Regions from separate parts of the Homo sapiens genome. Here all the other regions are linked to region 4. Evidence: fine-mapped expression QTL. A gene starts in region 4. Each other region holds a variant in brackets. All regions are shown on one strand. Distances are between the middles of the regions. Region 1 has its middle 36 kb from the start of ZNF638. Region 2 has its middle 43 kb from the start of MPHOSPH10. Region 3 has its middle 50 kb from the start of ZNF638. Region 4 holds the start of PAIP2B (poly(A) binding protein interacting protein 2B).

The links. PIP is the estimated chance that this variant, and not a neighbour inherited with it, causes the effect. A credible set is the group of variants that fine-mapping cannot tell apart.
Region 1: its variant is the best candidate, but not a certain one, in a credible set for the expression of PAIP2B in whole blood (TOPMed, PIP 0.76).
Region 2: its variant is the best candidate, but not a certain one, in a credible set for the expression of PAIP2B in whole blood (TOPMed, PIP 0.89).
Region 3: its variant is the best candidate, but not a certain one, in a credible set for the expression of PAIP2B in whole blood (TOPMed, PIP 0.59).

Annotation. Positions count from the first base shown.
Region 1 is chr2:71,294,870-71,297,556 of GRCh38, forward strand. No RefSeq gene overlaps it. Among named protein-coding and RNA genes, the nearest start is that of ZNF638, 36 kb to the right of the region's middle. The variant G/A (reference allele first, on the strand shown) is at 1,116.
Region 2 is chr2:71,171,933-71,174,619 of GRCh38, forward strand. No RefSeq gene overlaps it. Among named protein-coding and RNA genes, the nearest start is that of MPHOSPH10, 43 kb to the left of the region's middle. The variant T/C (reference allele first, on the strand shown) is at 1,141.
Region 3 is chr2:71,279,940-71,282,626 of GRCh38, forward strand. No RefSeq gene overlaps it. Among named protein-coding and RNA genes, the nearest start is that of ZNF638, 50 kb to the right of the region's middle. The variant A/G (reference allele first, on the strand shown) is at 1,557.
Region 4 is chr2:71,225,452-71,228,138 of GRCh38, forward strand. PAIP2B (poly(A) binding protein interacting protein 2B) reads right to left here and starts at 1,652. Exons shown (of 4, transcript NM_020459.1): 1 at 1,477-1,652. RefSeq lists enhancers at 1,082-1,582, 1,798-1,937.

The sequences.
Region 1 (2,687 bases), 69 kb after region 4:
ACTTCCTTAAGTTTATTCGCACTAAGTATTTTATTCTTTTTGATGCTATTACAAATGGAATTGTTTTGAATTTCCTTCTCAGATTGTTCATTGCTATTGTATAGAAACCAACTTATTTTTGTGTTTTTCACCCTGCAACTTTACTGGATTTGTTTTTTAGTTCTCGTGGGGTTGTGTGTGTGTGTGTGTGCGTGTGTGTATAATCTTTAGGGTTTTCTACATATAAGACCATGTCATCTGTGAATAGAGATAATTTTACTTCTTTCTTTCCAATTTGGATGTCTTTTATTTCTTTTTTTTTTGCCTGATTACTCTGGCCAGAACTTCTAACGCTACGTTAAATAGAAGTGGCAAAAGTGAGGCCGGGCTTGGTGGCTCACATGTGTAATCCTAGCACTTTGGGAGGACGAGGCAGGCAGATTACATAAGCTCAGGAGTTCTAGACCAGCCTGGCCAACATGGCAAAACCCTGTCTCTACTAAAAATACAAAAATTAGCCAGGCATGATGGTGCACACCAGTAATCCCAGCTACTCTGGAGACTGAGGCATAAGAATCACTTGAACCTGGGAGGGAGAGGTTGCAGTGAGCCAAGATCGTGCTACTGGACTCCAGCGTAAGCAATAGAGTGAGACTACAACTCAAAAAAAAAAAAAAGTGTCTGAAGTGAGTATCGTTGTTTTATTCCTGATCTTAGTGGAAAAGCTTTCTGTTTTTCATAATTGAATATGATGTTAGCTGTGGGTTTTTTGTATCTGGCTTTTATTGTTTTGAGGCAGTTTCCTTCTATTCCTAGTTTGTTGAGTATTTTTATCATGAAAGGATGATGAATTTTAAATACTTTTATTGCATCAATTGAGATAATGTGGTTTTGTCCTTCTAATTCATTGTATGAAGCTAGGAATTACTTTTTTTTTTTTCTTTTTTGAGATGGAGTCTCACCCTGTTGCCCAGGCTGGAGTGCAATGACATGATCTCAGTTCCCTGCAACCTCTGCCTTCTGGGTTCAAGTGATTCTCCTGCCTCAGCTTCCCAAGTAGCTGGGACTACAGGCGTGCACCACCATGCCTGGCTAATTTTTATATTTTTAGTAGAGACGGGGGGTTTCACCATGTT[G/A]GCCAGGTTGGTCTCCAATTCCTGACCTCAGGTGATCCACCTGCCTCGGCCTCCCAAAGTGCTGGGATTACAGGCATGAGCCACTGCACCTGGCCTTTTATTCTAAAACTAGATAAAGAATACAAAAAAAAGTACAGACCAATATTCCTCATGAATGTAGATGCAAAAAATTACTAAATTATTGCCAGATTTAAGGCCAGTGTACAAAAATCAATTATTTTCCTATATTGTAGGAATAAGCAAAATAAATTTTGAAAAGGGATACTGTTTTCAAAAGCATCGTAAACATTAAATAATGTAACATAATATAGTCATAATATTAATGCAGAAAACCATACAATGTTATTGGGAGAAGGTAAAGAAGTTCTGAGTAATTAGAAGGATATACCATATTTTGTTGATTAGAAGTCTCAATATTGTAAAGATTTCACTTCTTAACAAATTGATTCACCGAGTCAATGCAGTCCCAACTCAAAATCCAGTAAGTTTTTTTTCTTTTTTTTTGAGAACTTGACAAGTTGATTCTAAAATGTATCTGGAAATGCAAAAGACCTAGAATAGCCCAGACAATCTTGAACAGTGGGAAGGCTAGCCATATTGGATATCAAGACTTAATATGGCCGGTCATGGTGGCCCACACCTGTAATCCCAGCATTTTAGTAGGCCAAGGTGGGAGGATTGCTTCCAGCCTTTTTTTTTTTTTTTACTAAAAAAAAAAAGAGAGAGACAACATGACACTGTAATTATTAAGAAAGTGTAATATTAATGGAAGAATAGAAAAATTGATCAAAAGACTAGAATAGAGAGTGCTGAAGCAGAATCACATATATCTGGACACTTCATGTATGAGCAAATTGACCCTAAAGAGAAGAAGGGAAATAATTAAATTTTTTTCAGTATGTGGCATGGAGACAATCAGATATTATTATTTTTAAAAGGAAGGAAAAAACATACAAAGTAAAAATCAAACCAAAGCTTGACCCAACGTCACACTATTAAAAAAAAAAAAAAAAAAGGCCGGGCACCGTGGCTCATGCCTGTAATCCCAGAACTTTGGGAGGCTGAGGCGGGCAGATCACCTGAAGTTGGGAGTTTGAGACCAGCCTGACCAACATGGAGAAACTCAGTCTCTACAAAAAATACAAAATTAGCTGGGCGTGGTGGTGCATACCTATAATCTGAGCTACTCAGGAGGCTGAGGCAGGATAACAGCTTGAACCCGGGAGGCGGAGGTTGCGGTGAGCCGAGATTGCGCCATTGCACTCTCCAGCCTGGGCAACGGGAGCAAAACTCCGTCTCAAAACAAAAAACAAAACAAAAAAGTTCCAGGTGGGTTGTGGTTTTAAATGTGAGCAGCAAAACAATGAAGTTCCTAGAAGATAATATATGAGAATATCTTCATAACCTTGGTATAAGAAGACTTTTAATAGGATGCAAATAATACTAACTATAAAGAGAAAGAAAAGCTAAATTGGACTACATCAAAATTCTTTCCTCACTGCCTCCCTCCCATCCTTTCTTCCTTCCATTAAGATTTTACCCCTGGCCAGGCATGGTGGCTCACACCTGTAA
Region 2 (2,687 bases), 54 kb before region 4:
ATGTCTTGGAGATTGTTTCATATCATTATATTTAGAGCTACCTCACTCTTTTAACAACTGCATATAATTCCACTGCATGAATGTATCATAATTTATTTATCCGGTCCTTTTAAGTGGACATTTAGGTTTTTTGTTTTTTTTTTTTATCTTTTTCAGTTATGAACAGTGCTACAGTAAATGTCTTTTTCATATTTTTACGATGAGTTTTTAAAGCCAATGTACTAGAAGATGGAAGGAAGCAGGTTTCTTACCCATTCCATCTCGGACTGCATTTTTAGAGGAAATTGTGCTATCTGGAGAACCATATTTGGCTCAGAGGATCAGGAGTGCTTGGATCCTACCCTGGTCTAACTCTTCCCTCCCCTACAACTAGGCCAATGAGAGATGGAGAAAATAAACAAGGAACATCTCATTCTTAGAGGGGCTGAAAATCTAAGGCCATGCTCTCTGGAGGACACCCCTTCCCATAACCCAGGCTTTCTCTTTGACATTTTGGACTAGATAGACCTCTGTTCTGAGGGCTGTCCTGTGCACTGTAGCATGTTTAGTAGCATCCCTGACCTTGACCCACTAGATACCAGCAGCACCTTCTCCCTAGTTGTGACAATATCTCCTGGCTGAGACCTACTGCTCTAACCCAGCATGGACCTCAGAATCCTACCACCCATAGGCTGGCACAGGGGCAGGAGACTGAGGCCCCAGGAGTGCTTGGCCCAGAATAGGAATGGAAGTGAGATGACCAGGCTTTGCACACCAGGATCAGCCTGTCCTGCCATAGGAGGCTCATGGAGCCAGTGGTACCCCTGAGGGCCCCAAGTGCAGAGCCTTTTCATAGTTGTCCCCCTGCCCATTGGCAGACATGGCCGCGTGGCACCCTGGCATCTATCCAAACATATAGTGACCTCTGCATGAAGGATAGGGTGGGAAGCTGGGGGAGATCTGGAGGCTATATTCATACATGCGCAGCGCAAACCAGTGGAACTGCCTACCACAGGTGGCCTCCGTCAGAATCGGGACAGTAGATGTGAACTCTGCTTTCGTGTCAGGTTCTGAGGACAAAGCTGATAGAGTTGGCATTTTTTCCCCACACTTCTAGATCAGGCCATATTTGAATCCATGATCAGTCTGTATGTCTTTAAT[T/C]GACTTGAACCAGGGGTGATAGATAATCCACCCCCCATTTCCTTAGATGGTTGGTCTTCACTTTCCCCCTGGTTGGCTCATAGGAATTATGTAATTTTTTTTGTATTCATCTGATTTGTTGATGTGGGACACCAAGAGGGAGGAACTTGGCACTCAAACATTAAGGTGAATGTCACAAATAGAGGCCAGTGGAGGGTGGGAGGCTCCCGGGGAGGCATTGCCCAATGCAGGGCAAAGGTTACAATGTCAGGCTAAGGCTTTCTAATGAAGCTCCTGGTTGTCATGTGGTGGCAGAGGGGAGAGCTGAAATCAGGATTGTGAGGTGTGGCTGAAATGTCTGCTGTAGCTCCAGGTGAGAGAGGCCCAAGACTTAGGATGGCAACAAAATCTCCCAAGATCCAGCAAGCCAAGCAAGCTTCTACTTTCTTGATGTTCCCCCCAACCCGTAAATATCACAGCTTTTGCAAGCCACAGTGGCTCATGCCTATAATCCCAGCACTTTGGGAGGCTGAAGCAGGAGGATTGCTTGAGCCCAGGAGTTTGAGACAAACCTGGGCAACATGGTAAGACCCTGTCTCTACAATAAAAAATACAAAAATTAGCCGGGCATGGTGGCATACACCTATAGTCCCACCTACTCAGGAGGCTGAGGTGGGAGGATCACTTGAGCCCTCAAGGCAGAGGTTGCAGTGAGCTGAGATCGCACCACTACACTCCAGCCTGGGTGGTAGAGGGAGACCCTGTCTCAAACAACAACAGCAACAACAACAACAATAACAACAAAACATAGCACACAGCTTTTGAAAAGAGATGGCGTGACAAAGATCACAGAACAAAGGGTTAACAAAAGAACCGGCTTGGGCTGAATGTGGTGGCCCACGCCTGTAATCCCAGCACTTTGGGAGGCCAAGGTGGGCAGATCACCTGAGGTTAGGAGTTTGAGACCAGCCTGGCCAACATGGTGAAACCCCGTCTCTACTAAAAATACAAAAATTAGCCCAGCGTTGTGGCACACACCTGTAATCCCAGCTACTCTGGAGGCTGAGGCAGGAAAATCGCTTGAACCCAGGAGGCGGAGGTTGCAGTGAGCAGAATCTAGCCACTGCACTCCAGCCTGGGTGACAGAGCAAGACTCAAAAGAGGGCAAAGGAGGTACAGCTTTCAAATATTCAGACTTTTGCAATTGGAAAATTTAACAAAAAAGCCATTTTATTTTTAGCGTGCATATAAAAGTTGTGTGGTTTGTGGTTTTGCTTTTATTTTGAATTTCTTCCTGGGGAGAAGCACCAAAGCATCTTCAGTGCTTAGACCTGGAAAGGTCAACGTCCATCCTGGAGATCCAGTCACAACCACAGGACCACAGAAGGGCAGAGCTGGGAGGGCCTGTGGAGGTCACTCCATCCACCCACCCCACTCCCAGAACCGTACAGGCTGGGCAGTCCAGGCCAATTCAAGCATTCCCTTCTGGTTCTATCAAGAAAGTCTAGGAGGGGAGTGGAGAGCTGCAGAGGGGAAGGAGGGAGGGGATCAGAAGGAGGAGGAGGAGG
Region 3 (2,687 bases), 54 kb after region 4:
CTTTGGGAGGTCTAGGTGGGCGGGTCACCTGAGGTAAGGCGTTCAAGACCAACCTGGCCAACACGGTGAAACCCCGTCTCTACTAAAAATACAAAAATTGGCTGGGCGTGGTAGTGCATGCCTGTAGTCCCAGCTACTCAGCTACTCGGGAGGCTGAGGCAGGAGAATCGTCTGAACCTGAGAGGTGGAGTTTGCAGTGAGCTGAGATCGCGCCAGTGTACTCCAGCCTGGGTGACAGAGTGAGTCTCTGTCTCAAAAAAAAGAGAAAACAGAAAAGATGGACCTTGAAGAGACAAAGAGTTTTCTTTGTGGTTGGGGTATTGGGTACAACACTCTTGCTGTGTGAAAAAGGAATCACTTAGAGTGCTTAAGCATGAGATAAGGGGTTGTAAAACCTTCTAGGCTAAATAATTAAATTATTTTAAAATTTTTACTTTAAAATCAAAGTAATACATGTACATGATTGAACAAATAAAGCAGTTCTTGAAGATTTACCACAAAAATACCAGACACTTGTTAATTTCTTTTTACTCTGTTTCTCTCCTTGAAGGCAAACACTTTGAAGTCCTTTAACTTTTTCTTCTAGTATTTACCTTTGTCTTTCTGAAAAAGTATACTTTATAACCACTTCTTGACTTAAATAGTTTAGGTATTACTTTTTTATAAATTAAGAATTGATAAAGTGAGGATTTAACTCTTTATTCTCTCTTTCTTCTGTATCCTTCTTCCATCCTCCCAATTTAGATTCTGTCATAATTTTTTGTTAAATTAGTAGTTAGGTTTTATATTATTATGACCAGGTAAACATGACTAGCCTTTGAGCCAAATGATAAACTAATTTACCTAATTTTCTTTCATCCCGTGGTTAATTTTTTCCAAATGCTGCAGTGCCATCAAATGGGCCAACAAATGTAAGGATTTACCAATGCCATTTTTTCCTTAAACTTCCTTCCTATAGCTTCCATTCTTCATACTCTAATCTGGTCTGGTTCTAAGTTTGTAACAAACCTAAAGATTAATGTATTTAAAGAGATAACAAAAGAGATTGCACCTACAAAATAAGAACAGGTCGCTATGAAAAGAAACCATAAGACAACAAGAAAGAGCTCTATGAAATTAAAAATATGATAGTCAAAATGAACTCTGAATAGAAGACCTAGAAGATAGAGTTGTCTAGGTTTGCATAGCTATAGTCCTGGGACTTTCCTTCACCTTTCTCCTGATTTGGACCTTCTGTTATCTAGATCATGAATCTGGTTTTCTTCATTTTGCTGAAACAATTAGTCCAGTTACTTTCTAAGAAAAGATAAATGTTCTAAGTCCTTGCATGTCTTAAAAATGTCTTTATTCTACCCTTGCATTTGAATTACAGTTTGGCTGATTTTAAAGTCTAAGTTTTTCCTCAGCATTTTAAAGGTTTAATTCTAGTGTGTCTGCTGTTAGTGTTGCTGTTAAGAAATCTGATATAATTAAGTTTCCTGTTTCTTTTTATATGGGTTGTTTTCCCTTTCTGAAAGCTTTTTAGTATAGTCTCTCTGGTTTTCTGAAAGTTTGTG[A/G]TTTTGTGTCATATTCACTGGTGTGATTCTTTTTTCATTTCTTGTGCTCTGCACTTGGTGGGCCGTTTTAACCTGAGGACCTCCCCCCGCTTTTTCCCCTAGTTTGATGAAATTTACTTTAATAATTTATTCCTTTCCATTTATTCTGTTCTCTTTTTCTTTAGTTGGATTTTAGACCACCTGGATTGATCCTTTAATTTTCTTATCATCTCTTCTATTTTTCATTTTTTTGTTTTTTTTTCACTTTCTCTGGATGATTTTTTTCAGCTATCTTCCTAACCCTTCTATTCAGTATTTCATTATGATCATCATATTTTTAATTTTGTAGAGCTGTTTGTTCTCTAATTGCTTCTTTTCAAAGCATCCTGCTTTTATGAGTGTCATATATTTTCATATCTTTTTAAAGATATTAATTCCAAGTTTTGTTTTTGGAGTTTTCTTTTGTTTCCTTGATTGTTTCTGCCTTTTGAAGTCTTTCTTCCTCTTTATTTGGCTTTTCAGTTTATTCAGGGAGACGCTTCCAGCCCTGTGCAGCATAGGCTGTAATCCTGGGAGTAGGGACAGGAAAGGGGAATGTGTTGAGAGTCCCCAAGGCCACCCTCAGGTTCAGCGATTTACTAGGAGGACATACAAGACTCAGCATATAGTCATACTCACAGCTATGGCTCATTGCAGTGAAAGGTTACAAAACAAAATTGGCAAAGGGAAAAGGTGCATGGAGTGAAGTCTGGGAGAAACCAGGCACAAGCTCCCTGGTCCTCTCTCAGTGGAGTTCCACAGGATGTGCTGAATGGTTGTGACCACACACGTGAAATGTTGTCTACCAGGGAAGCTCCTTAGACTCAGTGCGCAAGGTTATAACTGGGTGCAGGTTACATAGGCACCCTCTGCCTAGCGTTTACCATAATTCCACACTCCTAGAAGGAAATCAGGTGCTCAGCATAAACCACTATTCTTACATTTTTACACTGTTTAGGTACAGTGAGCCACTCACTGTTAGGGAATGGTGGGAACCTTCCTGAAATCAAAGTTACCAGACAGCAGCCATGGGCTAAGCTTGCAAGTAAGACTTTCAAAGCATAGTAGTCTCAGGCATGTTCTGTGAACTCTTCTGCACAGGAGCATAGGGCC
Region 4 (2,687 bases):
TCTCCACTGAAAGCTAGGAAAAACAATTCCAATTTTTGAAAAGTCAGGAAACTAAGCACTGTGAGAATTTACAAGATTTTGTAAACCTGTATATTCTCCCCACCCCGATATACAAGTAGCCAGAGGAGCCTATCAGTCTTACCCCAACACTTCAATCTCCTCCAACCTTCAAAATAAAACCCTCACTGTCCAATATCTGAATTTATATTTTCAAACGTCTAAAATCTTAATCAAAGCTAAGAGCAGTGCATTAGCTTTTCCCCATAAAATTGTTGGCATAATTTTACTTAGGCACAGCATAGTTTGTACTGTTATCAAAAAACATATGGCTAGAACCGACATTACTAGAAACCAAACGAATATACTATGAAGGTGAAAAGGGAACAGGGAATGTTGTTTTTGGACAGATTCAATGCTGTTATTATCCCTTCATAGGTTGGGTGTGATCGAATCACACTGTGCTGTACAACTAAGTATGTTCTATATTTTATGACAAAGTAGGGTAGCCAGGCCCTTACACTACAAACTCCCAGAAACCCCAGTTAAGCTGTTTAAAGTATAATCCAATTCAATTTACTGAAAATAATAGTAACAAAATTTAAATCCCTTGCTTCTAGTTAGCCCTTTTCAACTGCATTTTCAGCAATTACCACCAAAAGAACTGCATTAGGACAAAGATTCTAGAGCGGGTATAATGGTCAAATGCCATTTGAAGGCAAAAACAGTCTACCAGGAACAAAACATTAAAGTTCCCAACCTTGCCAAACTCCCTGTTCTGCGTATTCTGCCTCTCTCAGTTCACCTTCCAGCTGCCTGGAAGAGGCAAGTGGAAAATGTTAGTTTTCTGGAGAGATGAGAATGGAATTTAGGGGTTGGTAGGGGGTGATGGGCTCACTCACGGACCGCAAGGCACAAGAGAAGTGGCGAACGTCTCCCAGGCAAATGAGGCATGAAGAATGAGGGCTGGAGTCAAGGGGGAGATGGAGCAAGTATAAAAAGGCAGAGGACGCGCAGGGGCCGCGAATAGGGGAAGGGCACGACGCGCAATCCCTCCCGCTCCAGCCCGGGGAGAGGGGCGGGGGATGCCGCGCGGGTCAATTTGCCTAGCATTGTTGCACCTGGGTAGAAATGGGACTCAGGCCAAGAATTCGGTTCGAGTGTTAGGAGGACGCTGAGGGGAGTCAGGAACTTGGGTGGGAGTCGGGGGGAAACAGAGCACCTGTGCGGGGGGGAAAGGGACGAAAACCCCCTATTGCTCCCGAGGGGCAGGGGCTGACCCCAGCGGACGCCCCTTTTCGCCGATGGCCGCGACGTGGGACCCCGCGCGCTTTCCCTCCCTACAGGAGCTCGGGCAGGCGCGTGCCGCCCTTCACAGCCCCGACGGCGGCAGAAAGGGAGGCGCAGGGCGCCCCCAGAGCCGGGAGAACGGCGTTTCCCTCGAGTCCTTTCCCCAGCAGCCCGGGCACCCGAGCCCACCTGGGCTAACCAGAAGCCCCTCCTTCAGATCGTACTCTGCCACTCCTCCGAGAGCTTAAGCCGTTGCCGTAGAGGTCGCCGTCGCCACAACAGTCTCGGCCTTTAGTACCAAAACGTGAAGCACAGCACCCGAGAAGCGCCACTACCACTTGCCAGGTTATCTCTTACTGCACACTGCCTCCTCGCCCCGCCCCCGAACCCAAGCCATTGGTTGCCGGGCACCGCCCCATTCGTCTATTGGGCCAAAGAAGATGCCGTTCGGTCACCTAGAATGGCATATGTGGTTTTTATTGGTCTAAATGTGAAGCAGTGCCCGCCCACTCCCTCAGAAGTTTCAGCTTCTGATTGGTTTTAATGTCTGTCTTTTCTCTTCCTTCATTTTTTTTTTCCTGTGGTGGAACACCTCCTTGAGGGAGATGCCGGCTCTGATTGGCTGAAAGGACGCTACGCTAGCCTGGGATAGGCATTGGGCCAAGGATGCGCCCGGCCCACTCGTGGGGGAGGAGACCAAGGCGCCGCACTCTGGGTTTGTTTACACAGGCTCTTGCTCCCGCTTCGTCTATTGGCTGAGCTGGAAGCCACTGCCACCGAGTTTTGCCTGTCAGCCTAGCAAGGAGGAGGGTGGGGGTGGGCCTCAGTAGGATTTCCCTCAGCTGTCAATTACCAAAGGAGGAGCTTTGATTCAGGCTGCTTTGGACCTGGTGCTATTCTCTGTAGGGAAAATTAAGGAATTGGGCTCCTTGGGAGGCTGGAAGGAAGCAAAGGGACGCTGGAAGGAAGCAGACGGATGCTTCCACGTTTCTAGAAACAAACCTAACTTCTTGAGTGCTTTAAAAAAATAAAACTTGGCCGGGCGCGGTGGCTCACGCCTGTAATCCCACCACTCTGGGAGGCCGAGACGGGCGGATCACAAGGTCAGGAGTTCTAGACCAGCCTCGCCAGTATGGTGAAACCCCGTCTCTACTAAAAATGCAAAAATTAGCTGGGCGTGGTGGCGGGCTCCTGTAGTCCCAGCTACTCGGGAGGCTGAGGCAGGAGAATCACTTGAACCCGGGAGGCAGAGGTTGCAGTGAGCCAAGATCGCACCACTGCACTCCAATCTGGGCAATAGAGTGAGGTTGCGACTCAAAAAAAAATACATCAATAAATACAAATTAAAATAAAACTTTATTGCCTCCCTTGGATTTAGAATGTCCAATCTGCTTGCAAAG